Linked DNA regions of Homo sapiens. The protein of the gene in region 1 interacts with the protein of each later gene in a biochemical or structural test. Each region holds a gene or a part of one and is shown in the gene's direction. Other genes may lie near its edges.

Region 1 (3,500 bases):
ATGCCATCCATGAGGCCAGCCGTGCCTCCCAGCTCGTTGACGTGGAGAAGGAGTATCGGTCGGTCCTGGATGACCTCACGTGAGTGCAGCCCATCTTCTTCCTTTCAAAGTGGTGGTAAAACATGACAGGGATATTCAGGTAATGGAAAGCTCTAGTATTCCAGAAGTTTAGGAGATGTGTAGAACCTTTTATTTGGAGGACAGAGTCAATAAGGGCAGTCCTCAACCTCATCTTTGAGTCCCAGCCCTTCCCCTTAGGAGTGGCATTGTACATGGTAGTTAGAGTCTCTGTCCAGCTCGTGAAAGCCAGTTGCATGCATAATGTCCAGAAGAGAAGGGCTGTTCACCAGCATGTGCACAAAGTGATCTCAGGAGAGGTGCACCTAAATTCAGGTGTTTCCTATTCGAGATGCCAGGAATACATTGCGCCCCCTTCACATTTTTCTCTGTGCGGTAGCTTCTTTCTAGCTTACTGTCCCCAAACTTAGTGTTCAGTCCTTGGGCAATTTTTCAGATTTGCATTTTTAGAAATAATAAAGACTCCCCGGTTTTCTTTTCTTCCATCCTTGTTCTGACTCTGGAAATGGAGATTTTATTTGTGTCTTAGAGAGGGAGAAGACTTGAGCTGTTTTGAGCATAGCACGTTAATGGGGAAGAAGGGGAGGCTGTAGACCTGAGCAAGGGTAGGAGGTGAGGACAGGAGAGGGGAAGTGGGAGGGGTTGAGCTCACTTATCATTGCTGCTTGGCCCCCGTTGGGCAGTGTTCTGGGCAGTGTCAGGTAAGCAAGAAAGAAGGCGAGGGCTGAACGGGATGGAGGATGGAGCAGTGTCACAGAGGATAGCTGGGGAGGGTGGAGTGTGGCGCTGTCATGAATGTGGTTGTTGGTACTTCAAAGACATGTTTTCTGCTAACCATTCCCTGGTGTGTTCTTTTGGCCTCCTCAGGAGCAGGTGCTCGTTCATGGTTATAGTCTGAGTGTTGAGGACCTCAACTCTTTGTAATGATACTTTTACATTTGATCTTGGAAATGTGTCCTCTTTCTCCAGAGGTGACAGAGGAGAGTTGTGGGGTCTCCATGCAGAGTGATGCTAGATGGCTGGTGGCATGTGGTGTCTCAGCCAGTAATACGCATTGTTTATCCTGTAATCCACAGAGGATACAAACAGCAAATTACACAATCATCAAGAAGATTGAATTTGTGTTTTGAAAATTGGAAGCTACAATTCTATGGTGTCTATTTTAGGAGTAATTTATTTTAAATTGATTTGTTTTCTTTGCACCACAAAGTTTAGTGCTGTAGTAAGTGAATCTTCCATTTATGTAGAAGAAAAATATTGTCGCAGATGTGTGATTTATATAAAAAAATGTTTAAGCATATTTAGGATGCTTCCAGACTTTGGAAGGCTTCCGTAACGGGCTTAAAAAACCCATGTATGCATTTTTTCATGTAAAAGGACAACTTATTGCACATTGTTCTAGCATAGTGTGTTGAATAAAGTAGGCACTTAAATAATGCTTGTAGAATGACTGAAGCAGCTTACAAATGGGAATGAGCTGATCTAAATCAGCTAGATAAAAGAAAACACTAGCAGTCATCTTAAACCTCTAATGATCCTACAAGTTTTATTTGTGGCCAATAAGGGTATGTATTCTGGTTTAGTTTCCTTTATCTTTTAGTTAATAAGAAGTAAAAGGGACATGTTTTTAGCATTTTTCTCTTTATATTATGCTATAAAAATGTTATCAGAGTGCAAAATAGACAATTTATCTTATTTTTCAGGTCATGTACGACATCCCTAAGGCAAATCAATAAAATTATTGAACAGCTTAGCCCTCAAGCTGCCACCAGCAGAGACATCAACAGGAAACTAGATTCTGTAAAACGACAGAAGTATAATAAGGTGATTCAGAATAACATTCAGTATTGCATTTTTGAAAAAGTCATCATTTAGGGGCACTTAATTTAGGAAGTATTTTAAAAAGTGCTTATAAGATGTGAAGCAAATACTTATAATTACAATAGAGAAATTTTGGGTTTCTTTTGTATGTTTAATCTTTCTGCTGTTTTCCTTTAACATCCCATTCTATTGCATTTAAAAAAACACACATACATAGACACACACATCCATACGTATACAGTTGCTCCTTGATTTACAACAGGGTTACATCCCGACAAACCCATCGTAAATTGAAAATATTGTTAGTCAAAAATGCATTAAATACACTGAAAAACCTATCTTAAAGTCAAAATATTGTAAGTCAAACCATAGTTAAGTCCAGAGGCTCCTCAGTTTATAATGGGGTTATGCCCTGATAAACCCATCACAAAGTTGAAAAATTGCAAGTCAGACCATGATAAGTTGGAGACCATCTGTGTATTTGAGAAAAGTTCCTTTTTGGTGTTGCTTGCCTCACTTGGGCGCACTTCCTTAGTTTTCCTGCATCACCATTTCTTTGGCCTGGCTTAGGGTCACACTGGCCTCAGTCTCCTGGTCTCCTGTGAACTCTTTTCTGCTTAGCCCTTGCTTCCTCTAATTGTCTCCACTCTGTTTCTTGGTGGTGCAGCCATTGACCCTCACACACCTTTGCTGACAGTTGCGAGAGCTTGGCCCTTCCTCCCACCTTGGGTGTTACAGTCAGCACCCAGCCACACTGGGGTTGTACTTAGCTTTGGAAAACTTAAGGGTAGGGAATATTTGTTACTTAGGATATTATTTTTATGAAGTTTGAAACTTTTTTTAAGGATTTATGTACAGCTTTGTGAGGTCTGAAACATTTTTTATGATTTATGTACCCCTTTGTGAAAATACATTGCAATAGATAGGAATGACTAGCTGTAACCATTTCAGTTCTGCCATCCCAACTTGTGCTTACAGTTGATTCACTGCAGTGAGTAGAGTCCTTGCATCTTTTCTTTAAGCTCTCCAGGGGCAGGGCTGTGCGTTGGTTCAGTTCACGTGGCCCTCCTTTTATTATACTTTCCACTCACCAGTCTGTTACCTGCACTACCCCATCTTCTCTCACTTGCTTCCAGAATAGCAGCCCAAAGGTCAAAGCTAGCAGTTGCCCAAGGCAGGTGGGTCCTCCCAAATCAGAGAGAGGACATCTGGTCTCTTGTGGGAGCATGTGAAATTGATGTGCAGAGACCTTCTTGGGCTTCTAGTGGGCTGGAATTTCAAGGGTGTAGAGCATCAAACTTGAGACCACTTCAGGTCCTAGTCTAACTTAATTATGCATTCTTGTCTTTAGCAGCTCTTTGATGGTTAGAGGTAGACTATTCAGAGGGAAAGTGCTTTAGACAGAATGTTGCTGAGAGAAAAACTGAGAAAAAACAAATTGCAAGTCATTGCAGTGTGGCATTTATGTTCAGGATTTCCCCTTGTCCCACACTCGTATTTGAAGTTGAAACATTCTTGACCTTGGAAAGATGAACCAGGTACCACAAGCCCAGTTCATTGGGCCTCCCCAGTGAAGCCCAAGGGCACATATCTGAGTTCTG
Region 2 (3,500 bases), on another chromosome or scaffold:
GTAAGTATGTAATACATAGCAAGTGGATTTGTTCATCAATGGAAAAGGATTATAAAGCAAATTTTAAAAGAGCTGGAGACTCTCAGCAAGCTGAATTGGTGTCTCTATCTGAATCTGCCCTTGCATGGAATCTGAGTATCTCAAACATAGTTAAAAATGAACACTAGGGATTTTTGTAAACACTTATTGTGTCTGATAACTCTATGTGAGGGATCTATAATTAAGAGTCTGCAGCAAGGATCTAGGACCAAAAAAATTATACAAATGCTAGAACAAAGTAGAGTTTGCCATTTCAGTGGCAAAAACTGCAAATAGTTTTGCACCAACCTAAATAGCATGGCTTACCTGGCCCAGACAGTAGTGTTGGAAAAACTGGTAAATAAGGCTACAAAAAGTTATCCTATACTCTAGGTCTCCTTGAATCCCTAATCAAGGAGCTGGTACATGGGGAAGTACAAAGATGGCAAATAACTGTAACCTGTGAGCAGTTTGCTGAGAAGGACTTCTGAGATCTTAGAATTTAGCAGAAAAGAATACGTGATCAATTAGTGAATGATATCATTGTCTCCTTATGGCATTTTAACTACCACTTTTTGCCATCTGGTTGTGGTAGAAATGGTAAGATCTGCCTTTGAAGTTTTACTGGAGTTGTATTTGAAACTTAACTTTACCACTTATTAGCCATATAATTTTAGCTGAGTTGAACCTCTGACTCTGTTTTCTCCGTAAACATTATTAAATAGTAAAAGTGGTAGCAGGCAGAGGGAGTACGTTAGCTTTACCTAATAAGATAGTTGTGAGACTTTAAGTGTTAAAAGTGAGTATAAAATGCCTAGCTCAGTGCTTTGCATGTAGAAGATGTTGAATAATTATTACTTCCTTTCCTCCCAGGCAATTTTGAGGAAAAATTATGACTTCATTCTGGCTTAAGGGAGAAGGTGGGCCAAAACATTGAGGCGGTGTAGGACTAAGAGCTGCCCCTGATGGTGTAACCTATCTGAGACCTTAGGTTTCCTGACATGAAGCTGTTGAGTTTTCACTTTGTCTGAATTAGTTTGAATTTATTTGGCCATTTAATTGAGCACCTAGTATTATACTGAGGAGTCAGATAAAGTTAGAAGTTTAAGGTTAGAATTTTTGTAAATAAACTCACAATTCCTATTTCTAAAAATTGCTTACTATTTTTCAACTTAATTTCTCTTCAGAACATCTCTTGATCAAGCACTAGAGCTATGATTTATTTACATTTGGTACATATATATTAAATGTGCAGTTTTAAATTAAAAATTATAAAATGAAACTATATGTATTTAACTTAATAGAAATTTAGACAGAAACAACTGTGCTATATCCAGGGTTACAGTCTTACAGTAATACTGACTTTAGTGTTAATGAAATACAGTTAAAAGCATGTATTTAATTGCTGGTTAGTTTTTGTTTAGAGTTAGTAGAGAAATGCTTCTTAGAATGAATTTACTAGAGATTTGGCATATATTATTGAGGAAGAACAATTTTTCCCAGATTAGATGTGATACCTTAGAACTGAAAGAATATGATTTTCAGTTGCTTTGTGGCAATCTGTCTAATGCCCCTTGGAAGATCTTTTTTGCTCTCTGTAGATATTTTTTGAGTGGCTCGAGATGCTTTACCTATATTTAAAACTTAACAATTTAAAAATAAATTCAGTTTTAATGGAAAGTTTAAAGATTCCATTTTTTCCTCCAAATAGATGTTATGGAAAGAGCCTACACCGGGTGTTAGGTAACTTAGCGTGTGAGCCTCTGCAAATCACTTAATCTTCTTCTGCTGTAAATGTCTGAATGTGAGCTAAAGTAATTTCAGTGTTTTTTGAGGTTGTCTGGTTATCTTCCCACCTTCTTTATTTGCTGTTCTGCTGCATTCGCCCAACTGCCTCAGTAGCCAACAGGGTGTCACTTTTAGGAACTTCAACCATTTAATTAAACATTGTCAGACTATTCTTTTCCATCTAATAACAGCAAGCTTCCCAGGTCTTTCATTCATACCTCTGAATTTCCTTTCACTCTAGTGATGAAAACCCACTTGCATTATCTTCTTTTCTTTATTCTTATCCTATATAGACTATGAACGTCTGTGAAAATTCTGCCACTCAAATTTAGGGCTCTGCATAGAATCTTATAATCTTTAGTTTTCATATATATTGTACTTGTATTTCTTATTTTTAGTACTTTTTTCTTGAGCTTCTAGAATATCTTGGTTTGTTTTTTCTATTAGTAAAATAGGTATTTTATAAATGTTTCTAATTACTTGATTTTGTTATGTATAGTCAGTTATTTGAAAATGTACATGTTAACTTTTTAGTTTGTTTTTAGATGAACAGCCAAACTTAGGGATAGAAAATGAAGCAGATACACATATTTTGATTTTCAGGTCATCTGTCCTGTCAAATATATTTACGTAGTCATAGTTGAGAGTAGCAGTTTAAATTTACTATAAACATGGTTGGAAAGAAACCTTTCCATGGTAGTTAATAAGATCAAAGCAGTCTGTTCCCTAAATTTGCAAAAAATAATAATTGTAATGTTTTACATATGTTTTCAATTTACCTGTAGGTAAAACATACTTTTTTATATCTATATACATACTGTTTTCATTTTCTTGGCTATTTTTCAGGGAAATTTTGTATCAGACATTTAAAGGCACTTAATACAAACATTTTTACTGAAGTGTAATTATTAATGGGAAAAGTCACAAGAATAACAGTAATTTGCCTTTAAAAGATGTATTGTTGTTATTGGCAACCTTATTAAATTTCTTTTACTTTGCAGTGTTGAGATTTTCCAAATGGCCAGCCAACTCTTTCTATACTTAGATGTTATATTAAAAAGTAACAGAAATCTATTCAAGGATTTTTGATGTTGCACTGTAACTTGCTTTTTATTTTTTAATATGTTGTTTGAACTTTGATAAGCTTTATAAATAACCAAGGCCACTTTTTCTTAAGGTTTTTATTTTTCTTACAAAATCTTGTTTCTTTTTAAAATGTAGGTGACTGTGGGGATCATGTTGTTATAATGAACACAAGACACATTGCATTTTCTGGAAACAAATGGGAACAAAAAGTATACTCTTCGCATACTGGGTAAGATAATGCTGTTGTCAGGGAAATTAGGTAGTTAAAATATATTACTTTAAGAATACAGTTGTTCTTACTTAAAAGAAAAAAGATATTTTTAAAAATCAGCATTTATTACTAATTTTACTCATGCCATGTATATAATTTACTCAATTTTTAAAAACCACACAACTATACCAAATATAGCTATTACCTGACAGTATTTGTTTATCCTACAAGTGTTTCATATAACCTGTGGACAAGATTATTCTCATGTTTTAGTCACTCTTTTACTTTGTATTTCTGCTTCCTGTAATTCATCTTACTGCTGTTTTCAGAACCATCCCAAACCATCTGAAAGTTAACAAGATGTTTAAGGAATGGTCACTCTTCTCTAGATAAAATC
Region 3 (3,500 bases), on another chromosome or scaffold:
GGAGCCTTTGCCACAGGGGAATGACCCAGAACCCAGTGGAGACAGCCCACTCGGGCTTTGCCAATCCGAGTGCATGGAGATGAGTGAAGTGTTCGATGACGCAAGTGACCAGGATTCCACTGACAAACCGTGGCGCCCTTACTACAACTACAAACCCAAAAAGAAATCCAGACAGTTGAAAAAAATGAGGAAAGTCAACTGGAGGAAGGAGCACGGAAACAGGAGCCCGAGCCATAAATGTAAATACCCAGCAGAACTGGATTGCGCCGTGGGGAAGGCTCCTCAGGATAAACCCTTTGAGGAAGAAGAAACTAAAGAGATGCCCAAGCTGCAGTGTGAACTCTGTGATGGAGACAAAGCAGTGGGGGCTGGAAACCAAGGAAGGCCCCACCGACATCTTACTTCTCGGCCATATGCCTGCGAGCTCTGCGCCAAGCAGTTCCAGAGCCCTTCCACACTCAAAATGCACATGAGATGTCACACCGGGGAGAAGCCATACCAGTGCAAGACCTGCGGACGGTGCTTTTCGGTGCAAGGAAACTTACAGAAACATGAACGCATCCACCTGGGCTTGAAGGAGTTCGTCTGTCAGTATTGCAACAAGGCATTCACCTTGAATGAGACCCTCAAAATCCATGAAAGAATCCATACTGGAGAAAAGCGTTACCACTGTCAGTTCTGCTTTCAGAGATTTTTGTATCTCTCCACCAAAAGGAATCACGAGCAGAGGCATATTCGGGAGCATAATGGGAAGGGCTATGCCTGCTTCCAGTGCCCCAAAATTTGCAAAACAGCTGCTGCCCTTGGAATGCACCAAAAGAAACACTTATTCAAAAGCCCAAGTCAGCAGGAGAAAATAGGTGACGTGTGCCACGAAAACTCAAATCCCTTGGAGAATCAACATTTCATTGGTTCAGAAGACAATGACCAAAAGGATAACATACAAACCGGTGTGGAAAATGTTGTCCTTTGAGTGGCAAGAATTAGAAAAATCTTCAAAAATATAGTTGGTGGTTTTTTTAGTTATGATTTAAGTTTAGTTTCATTTTGTCCATGTGACAGTCATGAAGGAGTGAAATTAAAAAAAAAAAAAACTCATTTGTGAAAATTCCAGAAAAAGGATCCTAATATCTACTTTGGGTTTTAGCATTAACTTTATGCAAAGTGCACAAAAACAAAATAGCTGACTCCTCCAATATCCCAAGTTTCTTGTGAAAGTTAATAAAATTCTTAGCTGTGGTATTTCTACCAGTGAAAAAAGGAGTTTAATTTTAGCCTAGTTTAAAACTTTCTAATAATTGCTAATAAGAACTGGCTGCTGAACTGTCTTTAGTCACTGGAGAAAATAAGGGTCAGATATCCTGAAGATGGCATCTTCGTAAATATGTTACGTGGTAATAAGCTGTGTGACGGTCTTTATTCCCATCTGGCTTCTGCACTATTAAAATTTGTTTAAATTAATGGATACACATGAAATACTTAAACAATATAACTGAAATTATGTGCATAATGAGTAACCTAAAGTAGGACATTCATACATTATGTAGAACTACTTTTCTGCAACACAAACCTTGTAAAATACATATATAAATCACTATAACTTTTAACTGTCCATATCCCCTGTAGAGAATTATGAGGAGCAATAGATCTGCAAATAATGAGGACTGATGTAAAAATCAATAGAAAGCATTTTGAATATGATTTAAGAGCATGTGAATGCTTTTAGATGGAATGCTGTTCCCTTGAAGTTATGGCTGAGCTGTTCTTAGAACTGGTCTACTCAATTCACAGAAAACATAGGTCATGCCTTATCTATGGGGGAACACCCTCCCAGAATTTACCTGTGATTACCTGTGCTGCATATTACTTTGCAATGGCCTCATCTCAGAGAATGAAAGAGGGTCACATTGTTCTGAAACTCTCTGCAGTCTTCCAACCACCACAAGGCCATGGATGTGGGGGTCTATTCCAGACAGACTTAAGGGCTCAAGTGGAACCTGCCATCTCCCATTCCACTGAAGGACTGTCCAAGAGATTTAGTGCAAGGTACACTGCAGTAGTGAATTCCCAGGCACTTGAAAGTGACTGCCTAATCCCTACAATTACTAGCCTTGTTGGAGATTATGCAGCCCACAAGTACAGACTAGTATAAAGCAAAAGGACAAAGGAACCCCCACCCTCCACCCCACCCATTAATGACTTGAGTGGGCAAGAAGAAGTGATGGCCTTCCTTGCCTAAAACAGTAGCTTTGTTTTTAGGGGGTGGGAAGGTAGGATGTGGAGTGACATGGTTCTATCCTTTACTTATGAGACTCAGAAATATATCTACAAAGCCAGATGCTCTGTCTTCATATTTGCAGACATCTAGACCCCTTGCTAAAAACCCACTGAAGTTTTTTTTTTATGTTCTTTGACCCACACCATCAACACTACCCTCAAATCTAATTGCCCTACAGCATATTCTATCATGTGGACTAGGTTCCTGGAAAGCCGGAACTCATGATTCTTTTTCAAACTGCCAGAATAGAAGGGAGAGAGAAAACATTTCTACCCTTTGATCACCAGTGTGAACAGAATCCGGAATGCAGTTTCAGCGTGACCTGCAGTCATTCATGTTCATTGGATTTGACAGATGGAAACCCAAGGTTATCGAAGATTGGAAGGTTATCATTGTGAAGAAGTAGCTCAAAGGACTCCGGTTTCTGTCTACAAGTGTGATGTCTCCATGAAGAAGACTTAGTATGGATTTGGGTGGGTAAGAAAGCATTTAAACGCCCAGGAAAGGACATGATTAAAGTTGACCTTTTAATACTGTAGTACCTTGCTGTTAAGTAACCCCACTATTGTATCTGCATTTATCTTTTGTTCATCTACTTTCACTTACATACAGTATTATATAAGTAGAGAAAAATGGGAAAATGCAAGCAAATTCAACTTTATTTTATACATTGTATATATGTACACCCTACACTATTCATTTGGGTTTTATTAAAGAGATAGTCACAAAGGGCTTACGAAAATCATTTTTGAATTGATAATTAGAATATTGAATAAGCAATCCTATGATCCACTAATTTGTTTTATCAGTTAATAATATTAATCAAAGACATTTACTGTATATTCTAGTCATTTTGATTTGAGTTAACCCCAAATATAAAATTACCTGTAGTGATGTCTCTCTCCCAGCCCTTATATGTGGATATTTTTTAAGTGGACTTGTATGCTGATAATTCTAGACCAAAGTAAATATGGCAGAATATTTATACATGAAAAAATAATTTTGCAAATATTTTCTATAATTGTATTCATTTAAAATGTTGATAGCTTGTGTTAGTTTCAGGGAGGGGTGTATATTTTGATAAAAAAATACTTGACTTTGTAATTCTGTATATTCTATACAATTTATAGCAGAGCCGTTTTAAGACAGCCTTGTCACATTTTTTTGTTAATTGTGAAAATTTTATTGAGTGATGTTTAAGTATGCATTGAGTACATGACCA
Region 4 (3,500 bases), on another chromosome or scaffold:
GCTCTCTGAGTTTTGACTAAGGCCTTACTCTTGCTTCTTATTCTGTGTGTAGTGTGGCTGTGTGCAGGTTTTCCAACACTGGTGAAGACTGGTATGTGCTGGTGGGTGTGGCCAAGGACCTGATACTAAACCCCCGATCTGTGGCAGGGGGCTTCGTCTATACTTACAAGCTTGTGAACAATGGGGAAAAACTGGAGTTTTTGCACAAGGTAGGAATCTGCCAGTGGTTCTCCTAGATTTTAAGTCCCATTGAATTCTCTCACTTTTGCTTATGTTATGGATCAGGTCTTTTGGGGACCAGCTCCTTGATTCCAATCTCTCTCTTACCAGCACATGGAAAATGCTGGGGCCTTCTAGCTGCAGTGATGTTCTTGTGCCTGTGCATTCCACAGGAAGGCTTTGTGCTAACCATCCATAATGGGGAGATAGATGCACATTCAATTGGTCTCTTTCTTACTGTTTTAATAAGCAGGCAACAATTTGTGACCAAAATTCAGCAGTTTAAATAATTAATATTCTGGCTGGGCGCAGTGGCTCATGCCTGTAATCCCAGCACTTTGGGAGGCCGAGGCAGGCAGATCACCTGAGGTCAGGAGTTCGAGACCAGCCCGGCCAACATGGTGAAAGCCTGTCTCTACTAAAAATACAAAAATCAGCCAGGCATGGCGGCACGCACCTGTAATCCCAGCTGCTCGGGAGGCTAAGACAGGAGAATCGCTTGAACCCGGGAGGCGGAGGTTGCAGTGAGCCGAGATTGCGCCATTGCACTCTAGCCTGGGTGACAAGAGTGAGACTGTCAAAAAAAAAAAAAAGATTTAATATTCTTTTCCACCTGCATTCTCTGGGAAGTTACTGTTTAATGGGTACAGAGTTTCAGTTTGGGAAGATGAAAAAAATTCTGGAGGTGATAGTTACACAACAGTAAATGTGCTTAATGCCACTGAAGTGTATACTTAAAAATGACTGGCTGGGCATGGTGTCTCACGCCTGTAATCCCAGCACTTTGGAAGGCCGAGGTGGGCGGGTCACCTGAGCTCAGGAGTTCAAAACCAGTCTGGTCAACGTGGTGAAATCCCATCTCTATTAAAAATAAAAAATCAGCCAAGCATGGTGGTGGGCGCCTGTAACCCTAGCTATTCCAGAGGCTAAGGCAGGAGAATCACTTGAACCCAGGAGGCAGAGGTTGCAGTGAGCCGAGATTGCGCCACTGCACTCCAGCGTGGGTGACAGAGCGAGACTCTGTCTCAAAAAAAAGAAAAGGATTAAGATGGTAAACTTTATGTTATGACTATTTTACCATAATTTTTAAAATAAAAAGAATATTCTCTTCTCCACAATGACAGCATGTGGATTCCTTCAACCCTACCATAAGGGGAGTATCCTCTAAGAAATACTTCATAGACCCTTTTGCATATTAAATTTGTCTCTCCTTTACAACTGAGATGTCACTAGGCTGGGTGCAGTGGCTCACGCTTGTAATCCCAGCATTTTGGGAGTCTGAGTCGAGCAGGTCACTTGAGCCCAAGAGTTTGAGACCAGCCTGGGCAATGTGGTGAAACTCAGTTTCTACGAAAAATACAGATAATTAGTCAGGCTTGATGGCACATGCCTGTAGTCCCAGCTACTCGGGAGTCTGAGGTGGGAGGATCACCTGAGCCCAGGAAGTCCAGGCTATAGTGAGCCATGATTGCGCCTGCCACAGCCCTTCAGCCTGAGCAGTAGTGAGACCCTGTCTCAAAAAAAAAAAAAAAAGTCACTTTTCACTAGCATTTCTTTCCTGTCCCTCCACAAATTACAGTCACTTGGCTACTAAGGCTTCACTGTTGAAATAACACCAGTTAAACAGAGCACAAGCTCTGGACAGCAGTCGTCTGGTACCAGAACTTCTTGTCAGTTACAGCATTGATCCCTCTACTGAGTGAATGCAGCATGCGGAACTTGTTCACCCCAACACCCAGATTCATTAGCAAAATAAGCTCACTGGTGTGTTTCTTAATGATAGGCTCCTGTGGAAGTAGGCATTTCTGGGCAGAGAGGTGAGGCCTGTGTCTGGCTGGCATTTATAATAGCTGTATTACCTGCTTTTCCTCTATAGACTCCTGTGGAAGAGGTCCCTGCTGCTATTGCCCCATTCCAGGGGAGGGTGTTGATTGGTGTGGGGAAGCTGTTGCGTGTCTATGACCTGGGAAAGAAGAAGTTACTCCGAAAATGTGAGAATAAGGTAAGTGTGCTGGCATTGGTGCTGAGATCTAGCTCATGTGTCAAGGGTGGGGGCATTGGTGGGGTGGTGGGCATTGAGTTTTAAAATCTTATCTTTATTAGGACTTGTTGTGTTACCCCAATTCCAGCTTCAGAATTATGCCCTTGTTTTTTTGTTTTTTGGTTTTTGAGACGGAGTCTCGCCCTGTTGCCCAGGCTGGAGTGCAGTGGCGCAATCTCGGCTCACTGCAACCTCCGCCTCCTGGGTTCAAGCGATTCTCCTGCCTCAGCCTCCCAAGTAGCTGGGATTACAGATGCGCGCCACCACGCCTGGCAAATTTTTTGTATCTTTAGTAGAGACAGGGTTTTACCATGTTGGCCAGGCTAGTCTCTTAACTCCTGATCTCATGATCTACCCGCCTTAGCCTCCCAAAGTCCTGGGTTTACAGGCGTGAGCCACCGCACCGGCCCTTGAGTTTTGAGAGGAGCAGGAGTAGAGGGATCTCATTTCTTGACTTACCAAACAAGAACCAGCTTTCTATCTTGCTAGCTTCTATAAGGAAAGTAAATGTGAGAGTTAGGCATATATTTGCACTATATTAAAAGCTATTTGGCTCTTTTTTCCCACCTAGAATTCATTGCTAACTGCTGGTTTTTGGTATTTGCTGTTCTGCTGACCCTACGTATGTCATACGGAAAGCTGGGCTTTCTTTGGGTTCTGAACCCCAAGATTACACCCACCATCACTATTGTCTTTGTTTTTCCCAGCATATTGCCAATTATATCTCTGGGATCCAGACTATCGGACATAGGGTAATTGTATCTGATGTCCAAGAAAGTTTCATCTGGGTTCGCTACAAGCGTAATGAAAACCAGCTTATCATCTTTGCTGATGATACCTACCCCCGATGGGTCACTACAGCCAGCCTCCTGGACTATGACACTGTGGCTGGGGCAGACAAGTTTGGCAACATATGTGTGGTGAGTTGATGTTGTTAACTTGGGTTACAGTGATGTGTAGGAAAGCTGGCTCAGTTTCTTGTGGGTAAAGCCAAGGAGGAATCAAATCTGAGAAGTAAAAATGGATATAAAATTCCATCCTACTAAAGCTAACTCTACAAGCAATCTGTTCTTTAAGCCTTCTTACTAGTCTTTTGGATTTTTCTCTGTGGTTTATCTCCCTCCTCCCTATTGAACGTGATTTAATGATAGGTTTAGTTTGAGCTAATGGCTAATATTTCTTTTTACATTTTATAAGAACTTTGGAATGTCTGTTATCTATGTTGTGTGGTTTTGGTTTT

What was found. The genes of interacting proteins can lie anywhere in the genome.
Region 2: the proteins of ERCC6 (region 1) and MRPL13 form a complex in vitro, tested with the Homo sapiens proteins (one large-scale study listed by BioGRID).
Region 3: the proteins of ERCC6 (region 1) and ZBTB38 form a complex in vitro, tested with the Homo sapiens proteins (one large-scale study listed by BioGRID).
Region 4: the proteins of ERCC6 (region 1) and SF3B3 form a complex in vitro, tested with the Homo sapiens proteins (one large-scale study listed by BioGRID).

What each region holds. Positions count from the first base shown.
Region 1 is NC_000010.11:49,529,122-49,532,621, reverse strand, and holds part of ERCC6 (DNA excision repair protein ERCC-6), read left to right. Parts: coding exon 1-79; intron 80-1,781; coding exon 1,782-1,902; intron 1,903-3,500. UniProt on the Homo sapiens protein: Involved in repair of DNA damage following UV irradiation, acting either in the absence of ERCC6 or synergistically with ERCC6. Involved in the regulation of gene expression.
Region 2 is NC_000008.11:120,431,651-120,435,150, reverse strand, and holds part of MRPL13 (large ribosomal subunit protein uL13m), read left to right. Parts: intron 1-3,027; coding exon 3,028-3,121; intron 3,122-3,500.
Region 3 is NC_000003.12:141,445,004-141,448,503, forward strand, and holds part of ZBTB38 (zinc finger and BTB domain-containing protein 38), read left to right. Parts: coding exon 1-973; 3' UTR 974-3,500. UniProt on the Homo sapiens protein: Transcriptional regulator with bimodal DNA-binding specificity. Binds with a higher affinity to methylated CpG dinucleotides in the consensus sequence 5'-CGCG-3' but can also bind to E-box elements (5'-CACGTG-3').
Region 4 is NC_000016.10:70,565,316-70,568,815, forward strand, and holds part of SF3B3 (splicing factor 3B subunit 3), read left to right. Parts: intron 1-52; coding exon 53-209; intron 210-2,095; coding exon 2,096-2,221; intron 2,222-2,967; coding exon 2,968-3,180; intron 3,181-3,500. UniProt on the Homo sapiens protein: Component of the 17S U2 SnRNP complex of the spliceosome, a large ribonucleoprotein complex that removes introns from transcribed pre-mRNAs.